3 linked regions of the Homo sapiens genome follow. The protein of the gene in region 2 interacts with the protein of the main gene of each other region in a pairwise test. Each region holds a gene or a part of one and is shown on either strand. Other genes may lie near its edges. The genes, in order: ATXN10, TWIST2 and GLIS2.

Region 1 (3,109 bases), on a different chromosome or scaffold from region 2:
TTAATGTGTTTGCACTTGAGATGCATATTCAGAGAATGCATCCTCAAGAAAACTTGTGGATTGATACTGGATGTTCCGTGTTTCTGTGCTCCTCTACTCCTTTTCTGATAATTCTTATGTGAAGTTATCAAACAGGAAAGTACGTTGTCACATTCCTTCACTCTGGCTCCAGTTCTGACCCAGTGGGTGATATATGCCATCCGAAACCTTACCGAAGACAACAGCCAAAACCAAGATTTGATTGCAAAGATGGAGGAACAGGGGCTGGCAGATGCATCCCTACTTAAAAAAGTGGGTTTTGAAGTTGAAAAGAAAGGCGAAAAGCTGATCCTGAAATCTACTAGAGACACCCCTAAGCCAGTAAGTACCCTCGAGGGAACTGTCCTTCCCTTTGGTTTGTAGAAAGCTGTTTCCACTTCCCCATTGCTTCAAGCACGAGGCTCTTTGTAAGAATATGGATGGGAGAATTGTGCCCTCTATAGTGGTTTACCGAGGAAAGCCCTAAAGATAGCTGCAAACGGTTTTTTTGTTCCGGCTTTATGCTGCCATTTTCTTAAAAGAGGGACAATTTCAAACTCATTCTGGGTGAGAAATACAAAAGGCATATCAAAAGTTATACATGGTCTAAAAGTAAGTTACTCATAGGAATTAGATTTTCTTTAAAAGATAGTTAATGTTCACTATAGTTTAAAAAACAGAACTCCTTGAATAATATTGCATGAATTGTTTTAGGTTTCTCTAAGTTATTTGTCACCACTGACCAAAGTTCTGGGTTTTTTCCCCTTTTGTCTGATGAATCTTGTGAACAGATTTGCTACATCTGCAATTTTGTTTCTTTCTTCTTCTTTAGTGAATGAACTACATCCAAATACCTGAATTTTTGGAATCTGTTTCATGGATTTTTCATCTTCTACCGTATGTGAAATTGCAAGTGTTTGAAGATTTATAAGTACAAATTTGGGAACATACAAATCTTTTAGGTAGTAGAGTTTAACGTGTATAAGCTAAAAGTGAAAGTAACTGAGTGTTCTCTTGTTTCTTTGCATTAATGTAACTGTGTGGTTTGCCTTTGTCCCCCTGGATAGAACGTGCATTTAAAGAATATATTGTACTTACTGTGACAGCAGATAATAAACCAGTCTCTTGGAGGGCACAACCCTTATTTGACAAAACTTGGATGTTGGCTTGACTGTGTTTGTCCCTTCAGATGGCAAGTCAGCATCATTCTTTATATTCCTCTTCTCATTGGGTTTTCTGAACTCTGGCAGGCGGTTGAAGTAGTTTCTCACTGTGATTAATTCTAGCAATCTCTTTTCACCCCTCTGCCTTTCCAAAACATTGACAAGACTCATTTCCAGTTAATTAATTCGAGAACCCTCCCTCTTCATTTTGGGTACTGGGCTGTCTTGTCACTGAGCCCTATCCCTTTGGAATGTGGCAGGGAGTGAGGTTGGTGAGAGAACATGTGGGCACTTAACTCTTCATGTTCCAGTTCATCCCAGAAGTAGACATCCCAGGACCCATTCTGTGTCAAGGTGAATGCCTGTGTCCTCCCCAGCTTCATGCCTCTGTCATGGGGGAAGGAATAGCTTATGTTCTGCTCTGGTGCAGTGCCGTAGATTAAAGGTACATTTCTATCTTCTTTGATTTAAAAAGCACCAGTCTCATAAAGGTGCCACTCAGTTTTAGCCATGTCTTCACTGAAATTGCAAAAGTACTTTTAGGGAGCAGGAGTTTATTTGACATCTAGTTATCTGTCTGTCTGTTCATCTATCTATCTGTCTGCTGTATGAGAGGTAGGACTGGATTAAATGACCACTGAACTCACTGAATCCAGATCATTCATATCATCAACAAAAGCTCTAGGGGGAGGTCACGTTGTGAATGCTTAAAACATATTATTTTCTTCAACAACCATATCGCTAAACTAATATATCCAGAGATTTTGCACAATTCGTGTTGAACCTTCCAAAACAAAAATAAAGACCTGTCCAAAAGTTTTGACAAAAATACTGATTGCTCCCAAATAAAGTGCTTCTAAGCTTTGTGTAGACATAGTTTAACTGATTTGTAAAAATAGCTTAAGCATGTTGAGAATGAAGTAAAAGTTTTCCCATGTGCTGTCTAATGTACTCTGTGTAACTCTGAAGACACATCAGCTTCTAGGATTGCAGCAATCTATGAATAACATTTTTTCTCTCATTTATGACTTTCCATCAGTAAAGAAGCCATTGCAGAATTTAAAATTACACAAAGGAGTCATTCTCTCCTGGGACATAAAGAGTTAAAGCTCTGTCCTCTAAATAGAAGCCTGGCCAAAGGGAGAAAACAGTGGGAGTCCCTTTTCCCTTTTAACAAGTTTGCAATAGACACTTCTTTTTTTCCTGTCTCAATGGATGTGTGCACACCAGTGGAATCGCACAAACTTGTCGGTATGAGCTATATAATAACAAACACAAATAAATAAAAGGGAGCCTTGTGAGAATACAGAATGGGGTAATGGTTATGTGTTTTCTAAGTAGGAAGTGTGGGGCTTGCATAGTGAAAACATGCTGATGACTGCATTGTGGCTGCCTTTGATTCCCTCGGATGGATTAATTCTTGAGCACAACAGCTTCCCTGTCCTCTACCGTGGAGGACTCGGAGCTCCTGAGAACCTTGTTTTACATGCTATAGAGGATTAATCATCACCTCAATCAGTCATTTAGAAGGAAGAAAAAAGCAGGCCAGCCTTACAAAATTTGTAAAGAGACAGAATGGTCACAGCAAGTTTTGTGACCATATTATTGCTTTCAAGAGCGAGCTGACAAAGCTTTTAGCTGGCTTCACTTTAAAAGATAGAGGGGAAGGCTTCTCAGCTTGATACTGAGTCCAAGTATTTGCAGAGTGATTATTTTTTAATACCTTAACAATGGATGTGAAGATTTCAAAAATACTTATTTTTGCAATCTTAAAACAGTCGGCTCTCTGTATCCACAGATTGAACCAACTGGGGATTGAAAATACTCAGGAAAAATAAAATAGTAGTACAACAACAAAAAATAATACAAATTTTAAAATACAAGGTAACAACTATTTCCATAGCATTTACATTTTATTAGGTGTTACA
Region 2 (4,471 bases):
AACCTGCACACCCAGGTGCTCCATTCTTAGCCAGCTGCCTGGTGAGCTCATGGTCAACATGGCACGGATGCATGTGGAGCAGACGGTGACTCGTTCAGAGAAGCAGGGAGGTGGTGGCACAAATGAATGCCATGCTTGGGAGAGCAGGGAATACCACCCAGGGTGAGCAGCAGGGAAGGCTGGCCCGGACTTTGGACAGCAGGGGTGGCTCACAGAATGGGCACGCTTCTGTATCAAGAGCGGGGCGTGGGTGTGACAGCAATGGTCTCTTGTGCTGAGGCTGCTGGGGAGCAGCAGAGGACTAGGCACTGGGAAAGGGCTGAGGCCCCCTCTGCTCTCCCAGGCCTCGGTCTGTTCACACTGGCAACCATGTTAGAGTTGGTAGTTTCTAGAAATTTCTACAAACATGCACAGCATAAAATGTCTCACATCCTCTCTCGTGCCTTTTAAAGTGAAGTAATAGTGATTCTTGCAACCTGTTCTGACTCTCTCAGGCAGAGCCCTGAGCTGCGAAGTAGAGATGAGAACAGAGATGGGGAGACCATGGCTGCGCGGACGTCTTTATTTTTCCTGGGTGGGGAGCAGGATACACAGCCACACTGCAGTCACTTAGCTTGTAAAAATATCTCAATAAATAAAACAAACAAGCAACATATACACTGAACAGAGAATATTTTTTTTTAAATGGCTAGCCAAGCAATCACGGAGAAAGGAAAAGAATAGCGGCGTGAAAGTAAGAATTCCAGGCTGACTTGAAACAATCATGCAGAGGCTCGGGGGAGGGGAAGGAACTCGGGGGTCCTCTTCTGAGAGCCTTGGTCCAGTTTCAACAGAATTGTACAAGAATGCATTTCTGTTTTATTAAAAAAATAGACATTAAAAAAGGCACTTAGAGGGAAATACAAATTCAAAATCCAAATCCTCATAAATGTGTTCCTGAATCTAGACATTTTCAGAAAGAATAAACCTCCCCCCAAACATAAGACCCAGAAGAAAAATCCAAACAGAAACAAGATGACCATGACAATGTCACCAGCAAGAGGGCTGGGAGTGCCCTTCCTATGTGGGGACCGTCCTGGGGGAGGACGGGAGCCCGGGTCTTCTGTCCGATGTCACTGCTGTCCCTTCTCTCGACGCTGGTGGAGGGCAGAGGTGGGGGCCTCCTGAGGTTGTTCAGGTTTCAGAAGTTACAGACTCGAATGCATCCCAATTCCACTTGCGCCGCCGACGCGACGGACAGCCTGGAAGATACGGAAGGGGGACCGTGAGCTACGGCCGCCTCGCTCGGCCTCCTGCAGGATCGTCCTGAGACTGTCCCAAGGCTGGGTGGGACGGGACACGGGGCAGGCCCTGAGAGAGCTGGCTCTGTTCTACTCATGTTCCTCCCAAAAGACACTGGGCAGGTGACTGCTACGGGGCCAGCCCAGGCTTCCGCAACCCCTGCCCCCTGGGCCAGGCCAAGCCCTTTCCCTCCCCCGAGTGCCCTTTCCTGCCCCCGAGTGCCCTTTCTCACACTCACCACCCCGGGGCCTCTCCCTGGCCCGTGCTCAGCGCAGCCATGAATGCGGTCTGGCTGTGGGTGAGCCCCTCAGAACAGGCTGCCTGGGGACAAGAGAGGCTCGGCACGTTGGCCCCGTGCAGGCCCGAGGGAGCTGTGGGGTTTCGGGCAGCAGAGGGCTGGGTTCCAGCGAGGAGGACGCAGAGAAATGGGTCAGCCGCTGGCGGGAGCTGTCAACGGCGGATTCTTGCTTTAAAATGCGTGCTTTCAAAACAATTGCAGACACACGGGAAGTTGCAAAGACAACACAGAGATGTCCCATGTGCCTTTCACCCAGTTTCCACACATACCACACCCACGAACACACCCCACCCCACATACACACACACACCAAACATACCACACACTACACACACCCCACACTACACACCACATACACATACCACACCCACGAACACACCCCACCCCACATACACACACACCAAACATACCACACACTACACACACCCCACACTACATACACACCACATACACATACCACAACCACGAATACACCACACCTCCACATACACACACACACCACACAAACATACTACACACTACACACACCCCGCACTGTACATACACACCACATACAAATACCACACACACAAACACACCACACTGCCACATACACAAACACACTACATACACCACCACACACCACACAAACACACCACACCCTCCCACACACAAACACATCACACACACCACACACCACACAAACATACCGCACACTACACACGCATCCCACTGTCCATACACACCTCATACACAAACACATACCACACACAAACACACCACATCCCCACATACCCACACACACACTGCACAGCACAAACACACTGCATACTACACACACCCCACACACTGCACAAACATACCACATACATATCCACACAGACAACATACCATATGGTATATTATATACCACATTATATGCCACACATACAGTGGTGTCGTCACGTCACACCCAGGCATCTGGCACCAGTATGGACCAAGAGCTTATTCACATGTCACTCGTGTGGGTGTGTGTGGTGTGGGGTATGTATGTGTGGTATATAGTGTGTAGTGTACATGGTATGTTGTATGTGTGTGCATGTGTGTGTATGTGGTATGTGTGGTGTGTGCAGTGTGTGGTATGTTTGTGTGGTGTGTGGTGCATGTGGTTTGTGTTTGTGTGTATGTGGGGTGTGGTGTGTTTGTGTGTGTGGTATGTGTGTGTATGTGGTGTCTATGTACAGTGTGAAGTGTGTGTGTAGTGTGTGGTATGTATGGTGCATGGTGTATGTGGTGTGTGTTTGGGGGATTGTATTTTGTATGGGGGGTATATGTGTACAGTGTGGCGTGTGTATGTGTGTGTGGTGTGGGGTATGTATATGTGGTATGTAGTGGGTAGTGTGTATGGTATGGTATCTATGTGTATGTGTATGTGGTATGTCTGTGTGTGTGGTATGTTTGTATGGTGTGTGGTGTATGTGGCGTGACTTTGTGTGTGTATGTGGGGGTGTGGTGTGTTTGTGTGGTATGTGTTTGTGTATGTGGTGCGTATGTACAATGTGGGGTGTGTGTGTAGTGTGTGGTATGTTTGTGTGCCATGTGATGTGTGTTTGTGTGTGGTGTAGGTGGTGTGTGTTTGTAAGTGGGGGTGTAGTGTGTTTGTGTGGTGTGTGTGTATGTGGTGTGTATGTACAGTGTGGGGGTGTGTGTGTAGTGTGTGGTATATTTGTGTGGCGCGTGGTGTGTGTTTATGTGTGTAAGTGGGTATGTGGAGTGTTTGTGTGTTTTTGTGTGTGTGTTGTGTGCGTTTATGTGTGTGTTTGTGTGTGTATTGTGTGCATTTGTGTGTGTGTGTGAGTGGTGTATGTGTACTTCCTGCAGTTTCATCATGCGTGTTGTTTCTTGCACCCCCCACTATGATCAAGACACACAATTCTTCCAGCCCCACAAGGTCCCCTCATGCCACACAAGTGACTTCTAAGCGCACTTGTGGGCCAATCAAACTGTGGGTGTGCCAGGCTTGGTGCAGCTCTGGGGCTGCAACCAGCTGTCCCGGGAGCGCCTTGGGGAAAGAACCCGCTCAGGCGCTACCCAGAGCCTGGTTCCCACCTGCAGGGGGAGGAGACACAGGCAGGAGGAAAGTCCAGGTCCTCCAGGAAGCCGGGGTGGGGACCCCAATCCCGCGCCTCCCTCTGTGCCTGCCAAGCTCAAAGAGAAGGTGCTGAGAGGTGGCCGGGGCCAGCGTCTGAGACCCAGGGTGTACAGGGATGTGGTGTCATAAGCCCAAGGTCTTGGGCCACCTCAGTGGGGCCCACAGGGCAGGGGACACGCCACTGGCATCAGCACCTGGTCGGGAGTGTGGCGAACACAGGTGGGCCCCGCGCCGCGCCTCAGGGCCGCTTCTGCCACACACCCAGGCCAGCCTGCAGCAGCCCCCAGGCTGTGTTGCTGTCCTGCCAGGAGACCTGAGCTCTAGCAGGGATCGCTGAAGACTGGCCCTGCGACCTGGGACCTTTACTGCTCACCACAGGGCCTGGCCGTGTAAGTGCTCACTCCCACACCTCTTGCACAAACATGAGAACAGCCAGTTGACCTGCAGAGCTCGCGGGAGGTGAGTGTTCAGCGAGAATTATTGGAGAACTCCCCTGAGCCAAGGGGCAAACCAGCGCAACGAGACCCTCCTCCCGCAGAGCGGCTGAGCGTGGTGGGAGGGGTGGGTGTCAGCCCAGAGGCAGGCATGGGCTCCCCAAGGCGGCCGCCAGGAGAGGGGTCACCGTGAGGATTCTGCCACAGGGAAGGAGGTCCAGGGAGGCCCCAGGCACTGGGGGGAGGATGTGGAAGCTGGAGGGACGGGTGACGTGGTGCTCGGTGACATCCCGTGTGTGTGTCTGTGAGTGTGCCCACTAGTGTGAGAGTGAGTGTGAGTATGAAAGA
Region 3 (7,135 bases), on a different chromosome or scaffold from region 2:
AAAAAAAAAAAAAAAAAAAAGGCCAGACTTGGTGGCTCACGCCTGTAATCCCAGCACTTTGGGAGGCCGAGGTGGGCGGATCACGAGGTCAGGATATCGAGACCATCCTGGCTAACACGGTGAAACCCTATCTCTACTAAAAAAATACACACAAAAAAATTAGCCGGGTGTGGTGGTGGGCGCCTGTAGTCCCAGCAACTCAGGAGGCTGAGGCAGGAGAATGCTGTGAACCTGGGAGGCGGAGCTTGCAGTGAGCTGAGATCGTGCCACTGCACTCCAGCCTGGGTGACAGAGTGAGACTCCATCTCAAAAAAGAAACAAACAAAAAAAACAAAGGTGACCACATAGACTTCTGAGAGATGCATCTTGAGGCCTTGTCTCCAAGTTCTCAGCTAAATGGCCACTGCTGACCAAAAGCGCACTCGCAGGACACTCCAAGGCAAGGGGTGTTCCTCACATTGCCCTTGACAACACTGCCACGCTGGTCACTCACCTGACCCCATGCTGCTGGGAGCGGGGCAGGGATGCAGCCCCATCTTACAGAGGACCCGCTTCCTTCTGCAAAGAGACCAAGTGGTTCTCAGGGTGGGTGCACACAGCCCCCCAGTGCACCCTGCACCTCCACAGGCTTAGGGCCTGCCAGCCACCCTCCCCCAAGCAGGAAAGGAGGAGCTTTTTTTGTTGTTTTTTGAGACAGGCCGGAGTGCAGTGGTGTGATCTCGGCTTACTGCAGCCTCAAACTCCCCAGGCTCAGGCGATCCTCCCACCTCAGCCTCCCGAGTAGCTGGGACCACAGGTCCCTGCTTCCACGCCCAGCTATTTTTTTTTTTTTTTTTTTTTCCGAGATGGAGTCTCACTCCGTCGCCCAGGCTGGAGTGCAGTGGCGCGATCTCAGCTCACTGCAACTTCTGCCTCCCTGGTTCAAGCGATTCTCCTGCCTCAGCCTCCCGGGTAGCTGGAATTACAGACACCTGCCACCACGCCCGGCTAATTTTCGTATTTTTAGTAGAGAGAGCGTTTCGCCATGTTGGCCAGGCTGGTCTGGAACTCCTGACCTCAGGTGGTCCGCCCTCGGCCTCCCAAAGTGCTGGGATTACAGGCATGAGCCACCGTGCCCGGCCACCGGCTGATTTTTTTACTTCAAACGGGATTTTTCCATGTTGCCCAGGCTGGTGTAGAACTCCTGCACTCAAGGGATTCTCCTGCCTCGGCCTCCCAATGTGCTGGGCTTACAGGCGTCAGCCACCGCGCCTGGCCTAGAAGGAGCTTTATTCAGAGCAGGACTCCAACCAGCTCCCTATTAGCCTAGTGATCTCAAGCCTCAGTTTCCCCATCTGTGAGATCGGGAAAATGACAGCAGCTACTGCCAGGCAGGGTTGTAGAGGGGTCATTGAATCCATGGACAGATGGGCCTGACACGTGGTCAGTACCTAATGGTCCTTTACCCCCTCTGGTGTATGACCCACCCCAGGCCAAGGGGCCCTGGAAGAGACTGTCTTTTCCGGGCCTTAGTTTCCCTGAGTGTGCTGGGTCGCCCCGTGCCTTCCAGTAGGGAGGGTGGGGACAGTGGCCGGCCCCGCCTGCCAGGGCGGGATCCTTGGCTACCTGGCCTGGCCGGGGACTGCGGGCGGGGGGCCGGGTGGCTCCGCCAGCGCTGCAGCTGGGGGCCGTCTGCTCGGGCTGCGGTCGGGCACACAATAGCAGCCATTGTCTCGGCCAGGGTGGCGGGGGGCCCGCCCAGCCCACCCTCCGGGTGACCCCCGCCCTGCGGTGGGTGGGAAGGGCAGGGCCCGGTCCCCCGAAGCCCCCGCCGTCCCGGTGGTCCCCGCGGCCGCCCCCGCGCGCTTCCTCCCTCGCCGCAGCCGCTTCCTCCCGCTCGCCCCGCTCTAATTAGTTCCTTTTGCAGCTGGAGGAGCCGCGCAGCGGCCGGTTCCGCGGCCACCCCCACCCCCCACCGACAACCCCAGCCCTCGCCCCAACCCCTGGGCCCTTGCGTGTGGGGGCGCTGCCCTGGGCGCATCCCAGGCTGAGTGCTCGAGAGACGCGGCCCTGGGCTCTGTGCACCCTCCACGCTGCGCTGTCCCACCGGGGGGAAACTGAGGAACGGAAGGCTCCACCAGGAGGCGCAGAGGGGCGTGGGGCCGGCGGGCCTTGCGCTGCGCCCGGGGAGCATCCACGGGGTGCCCCCACCTGACCGAGAGCCGGCTCCTGCCCTCGGGACCCCGCAGTAATTAGCACCCAGGCCTCTGGCTGAGCTTGTCCAGAGCCAGGCTGTCGGCCTTACGCTGGGGAGAGCCACGGCCACCCGCTCATGGGCACTCACTCAGGGTTCCCTGGTTGCAGGCCCGCTGCTCCCCGCTCTGGGCCTCCGAGGCTTTCAGGAGAGCAGGAACCTAGCTCTCGCCTGCCCCCTTCACCCAGCCGGGAACAAAAGCACAGAGCAGAGCCCAGAACTGGCTGCTGCCGGTCGGGGCGGGGGTGGAAGGGGAGGCTTTAAGCCTGGCCAAGGTCAGAACTGAAGCAGGGTCACTGACCGTCTCCCCTCTGGGGTGGGGCCTCCATTGGAGGAAAAACTCTGGGTGGGGAGGGCCTGGAACAGGGATGCTGGGAGGTGTAGGGCTGGGGGCAGCTCCTTCCTTTCCCGGGGGCAGGGACGCAGGCCGTGTGCCGGGCTCTGGCCTGCATTGGAATGAACCCCTGCCTCCCTGGCAGGACCCAGTGGCAGGAAGTGTGTGGGGGTGCCCCTGGGGACTGGACCTGCTGATGAAGGGGGTGCATTGGAGTCCTCCCTCTGGCTTTGGGCCGTGTGGCTGGCCCCACCTGGGGAGACAGGCTCCTCCTGGGGAAGTGTCCCCTGCAGGCCCTAAGAACAAGGTGACTCAGGGCCCCTGGCTCCCCGAGTCCCCATCTGTCCTGGGAAGGCAGTGGGGCAGGTGCCAAAGGATGTTGCTTGGGCAGCGCTGCCAGTGAGTGTCCCCGTCAGCTGGAATTCCCAGTTCCCAAACCATCCTGCCCTTGTGGTCCCCTTCTCCGGAAGGGTGGGGGTGGGGGTGAGGACAGAGGCTGTGGGGAGGCCTGTGGCCCCAGGCCAGCCAAGGGACCAGGCCACCAGCCCTTCCTGGCTCCTGAATTCTTCATCAGCATAAATATTTACTTCCTTCCTCCCCGTCCAGGCTTCCAGCACAGAGGAGCTTCGGGGAGGCTGGATTGCGCCTGTGTCTAAAAATAAACAGGTAGCAGGACGATAGACACACAGATAGACAGATGGAACTGGCAGGGGTTCAGGCAGAGGGCAACTCCCTGTCCAGCCAGAGAAACAGTGGAGGGGACCCTGGTCCATCCATCACTGTCACCCACCCACCTGCTAGCGGGGGTGTGGTCCCTACCCCACCGCATCTCTGGGAGCCCCTGGCCCATGCATGGCCTGGGAGGCAAATTCAAACAATCTGACAGCTCCAACAGGGGCGAATCGCAGACCTAGGTCCCACGGCCTAGTGCAGCTGCCCTGGCTCTGATGATGCAGCCTTGGGAGAGGTGGGCAGCCCCCCTGTGCTGAGACCCCCGTGTCAGCCATGTTGGGGTGGGGTCTGGGGATGTGTCCCTAGAAGCAGAGGATCTCCAGTGAAGGGGGGACCATTTTATGCCCTACTTGCTTGGAGAGTCAGGGCAGAAGGGGAGGACGTGGGAGCTGCCTTCCTGTCCTGCCCTGTGGACAGCATCTCTCCCCACTCACAGGCTATGCTAGCCCCCAGGGAAACACACGGGGGCATATCCAAAGTATTTCACCATGTAGTAGTTATGTCCACCATGGCCGCCCTTTGGTATTGAGTAAAGACCCCAATACCGCGAAAGACGGGATCTCACAGCGTGATTGTGCGGCAGTTAGATTTTCAAGTTGTAATAATCCCAATGAACAAACGCAAGGAAATGTCGTGTTTAACCGCGTAGGAAAAGATTGCTGCTCTGAATGTGAAGTTTGGGTTTAGAATGAAGTGTTGACCTTGTTCTTGGGTCGGTGGATACTGTTAGATCATTTGCATGTGAGGAAAATTACACCAGGTGGGGCGAGGTGGCTCACACCTGTAATCACAGCACTTTGGGAGGCCGAGGTGGGCAGATCACCTGAGGTCAGGAGTTTGAGACCAGCCTGGCCAACATGGTGAAACGCTGTCGCTACTAAAAATAGAAAAATTAGCTGGGTGTGATGGTGTACACCTGTAATCCCAGCTACTTGGGAGGCTGAGGCAGGACAATCGCTTGAACTCGGGAGGCAGAGGTTGCAGTGAGCCCAGATCACACCACTGCACTCCAGCCTGGGTGACTGAGAGACTCCATTTCCAAAAAGAAAATGAAAATTAAACCAGTGAGAAATTCTAAGAAAAATGATGAAAATTACAGCATGGGAAGTGATACTAAAAGAATACCATCTCCAGTAAAAAATAATTTCTACATATTTATATATTAACCGCCAGATACAGCTGGTCAACTCCACCAACCCTGCCCCAGCTGGCCAGGCCAGGCCACAATCCCCAGCTGCCCCCTGGTGGCGACCCAGCGCCCTGGGGCTCCCTGGCTTGCGATGCCTCTCCTCTAGGCCTCTGCAGGGAGGGCGGTGGGGCCCCTGGCTGTGCCCACTTTCTCGGTTTGCCTGGTGCGAGTTCCTTGGTGGTGAGCGTGGCTACCTGCCGGCCATTTCAGAGGATGCTCCTTGCCCCCTGGCCTGGTTCTAGATCTTTGGGGTCAAACAGGGCGGGAGTCCGGAGCATGGCTCCTGCTCTGTCAGAAAAGGCTGTTAGGACACGGCTAGCCAGTTCCCGGGAGATCTGGCTTCAGGCCTTGAATCTTGTTGGGAACAGGCCCCCCAAAATCTGGCTGTAAACTAGCCCCAAAACTGGCCATAAATAAAATCTCTGCAGCGCTGTGACATGTTCATGATGGCCATGACGCCCACGCTGGAAGGTTGTAGGTTTACCAGAATGAGGGCAAGGAACACCTGGCCCACCCAGGGCGGAAAAACTGCTTAAAAGCGTTTGGCTTTTTGTTTGTTTGTTTGTTTTTGAGACGGAGTCTTGCTCTGTCGCCCAGGCTGGAGTGCAGTGGTGCGATCTCGGCTCACTGCAAGCTCTGCGTCCCGGGTTCACACCATTCTCCTGCCTCAGCCTCCCGAGTAGCTGGGACTACAGGCGCCCGCCACCACACCTGGCTAATTTTTTTTTTTGTTATTTAATAGAGTTGGGGTTTCAGCGTGTTAGCCAGGATGGTCTCTATCTCCTGACCTCGTGATCTCCCCGCCTTGGCCTCCCAAAGTGCTGGGATTACAGGTGTGAGTTACTGCGCCCGGCCACAGGCGTTCTTGAACCACAAACAATGGCATGAGTGATCTGTGCCTTAAGGACACGCTCCTGCTGCAGATAACTAGCCAGACCCATCCCTTTATTTCCCATAAGGAATACTTTCAGTTAGTCTATAATCTATAGAAACTATGCTAATGACTGGCTTGCTGTCAATAAATACGTGGGTAAATCTCTGTTCAAGGCTCTCAGCTCTGAAGGCTGTGAGACCCCTGATTTCCCACCCCACACCGCTATATTTCTGCGTATGTGTCTTTAATTCCTCTAGCGCCGCCGGATTAGTCTCCCGACCGAGCTGGTCTTGGCAAATCTGATAGTTTTTCCACTTCTGAGCTCTGCGATCTGAGGCGATGCCTGTAAAAGACGCAGTTTCGCCAAGCGTGGTGGCTCAGGCATGTAGTCCCAGCGTTTTGGGAGGCCAAGGCAGGAGGATCGCTTGAGGCCAGGAGTTCGAGATCAGTTTGGGCAACATGGAGAGACCCGATCTCTACAAAAAAGAAAATTTTTTTTTTTAATTAGCCAGGAGCGGTGCCTGCCTGTAGTCCCAGCTACCAGGGAGGCTGAGGTGGGAGGATCGCTTGAGCCTAGGAGGTCGAGGCTGCAGTGAGCTATGATTGTGCCACTTGCACTCCAGCCTGAGTGACAGAGCGAGACTCTGTCAGCAAATAAAATTCAGTTTCATGGCAAAATGAAGAATGTGAGCTTTGTCTTCCCCAAGAGACTCATGGGAAGCAGATGCGGAATCTCTGAGGAGGCTGTTGGCTCTCCCCCCATGATAGCTGCCGGCCAGGTCGCTCGGAGGGTCTCCCTACCCAGGAGACAACCTCACACTGCCCCCTGCTCCTGCTCCTGTTAGACTGTCATGAGTACAGCCCGAGGAGAAGCCTGGGGTCTCAGTGCCACAGCACAGCTCCTGTCCTTCCCCAGGTTCCTGCGTGAAGACCAGCTGGGAGCCCACTGCCTGCTGCCACCTCCAACTCCGGCCCCCTCACCATGCACTCCCTGGACGAGCCGCTCGACCTGAAGCTGAGTATCACCAAGCTCCGGGCGGCAAGAGAGAAGCGGGAGAGGACGCTGGGTGTGGTCCGGCCCCGTGCTCTGCACAGGGAGCTGGGCCTGGTGGATGACAGCCCCACACCTGGCTCTCCAGGCTCCCCGCCCTCAGGTACTGGCCCTGGGCAGGGCAGGGGGACTTAGCCCTGATCCAGTCATGGTGACAGGGAGAATGGCCAAGTGTGTCCACCAGCATGTAGCTGCAGCCCCTCTCGGCTTCCGGTTCATGGGAAGCCCGCACGCTTGTCCTTCCATCCGCCCAGCATCGTATGTCTGCAGGGAGGTGGGAGCTGCAGTGCCCAGCTCACGTGGCTGGCACACGATGCAAACTGAGGCCTCTAGGCAGATCTGGAACAGAGCTGGTCGGGCAACCAGGCATTCAGAAGGAGCGGCAGTAGTCCCAGGACCTGCACCCTAGGCTGTGGGGTGGTGCCGCTGGCCAACCTGGGCAGTAGAGGCTGGGTCTGAGCCCAGGAGGTGCCTCTCAGGGATTCCCGGTGCTTGGGCCCAGGGTGGTGGGCACCACTTCTGCCCTGCCTCCAAGAGCAGAGTCACCCGAAAACCAGATTCACCGCTTGTCTGAAGGGGAAGGCTATGGGAGCAGCCCAGCCCGAACCTGCCACTTTACAGAAGGGAACACTGAGGCAGGAAGGGGCCTGGGAAAAGCTAGAAAGGTTCCTACCTGCCCGTCTGACAGGGACCCAGGGGCCCTGGGTTCGAGTCCTGTTCTG

Evidence for each region.
Region 1: the proteins of TWIST2 (region 2) and ATXN10 interact in binary tests that used the Homo sapiens proteins (3 or more experiments, as listed by UniProt).
Region 3: the proteins of TWIST2 (region 2) and GLIS2 interact in binary tests that used the Homo sapiens proteins (3 or more experiments, as listed by UniProt).

Annotation. Positions count from the first base shown.
Region 1 is NC_000022.11:45,842,819-45,845,927, forward strand, and holds the end of ATXN10 (ataxin-10), read left to right. Parts: intron 1-172; coding exon 173-360; intron 361-850; coding exon 851-853; 3' UTR 854-2,489; downstream 2,490-3,109. UniProt on the Homo sapiens protein: May play a role in the regulation of cytokinesis. May play a role in signaling by stimulating protein glycosylation. Induces neuritogenesis by activating the Ras-MAP kinase pathway and is necessary for the survival of cerebellar neurons.
Region 2 is NC_000002.12:238,906,612-238,911,082, reverse strand, and holds the end of TWIST2 (twist-related protein 2), read right to left. Parts: intron 1,242-4,471; 3' UTR 549-1,241; downstream 1-548. UniProt on the Homo sapiens protein: Binds to the E-box consensus sequence 5'-CANNTG-3' as a heterodimer and inhibits transcriptional activation by MYOD1, MYOG, MEF2A and MEF2C. Also represses expression of pro-inflammatory cytokines such as TNFA and IL1B.
Region 3 is NC_000016.10:4,325,937-4,333,071, forward strand, and holds part of GLIS2 (zinc finger protein GLIS2), read left to right. Parts: intron 1-493; exon of another isoform or gene 494-558; intron 559-2,323; exon of another isoform or gene 2,324-2,404; intron 2,405-3,173; exon of another isoform or gene 3,174-3,233; intron 3,234-6,278; 5' UTR 6,279-6,344; coding exon 6,345-6,516; intron 6,517-7,135. UniProt on the Homo sapiens protein: Can act either as a transcriptional repressor or as a transcriptional activator, depending on the cell context. Acts as a repressor of the Hedgehog signaling pathway. Represses the Hedgehog-dependent expression of Wnt4.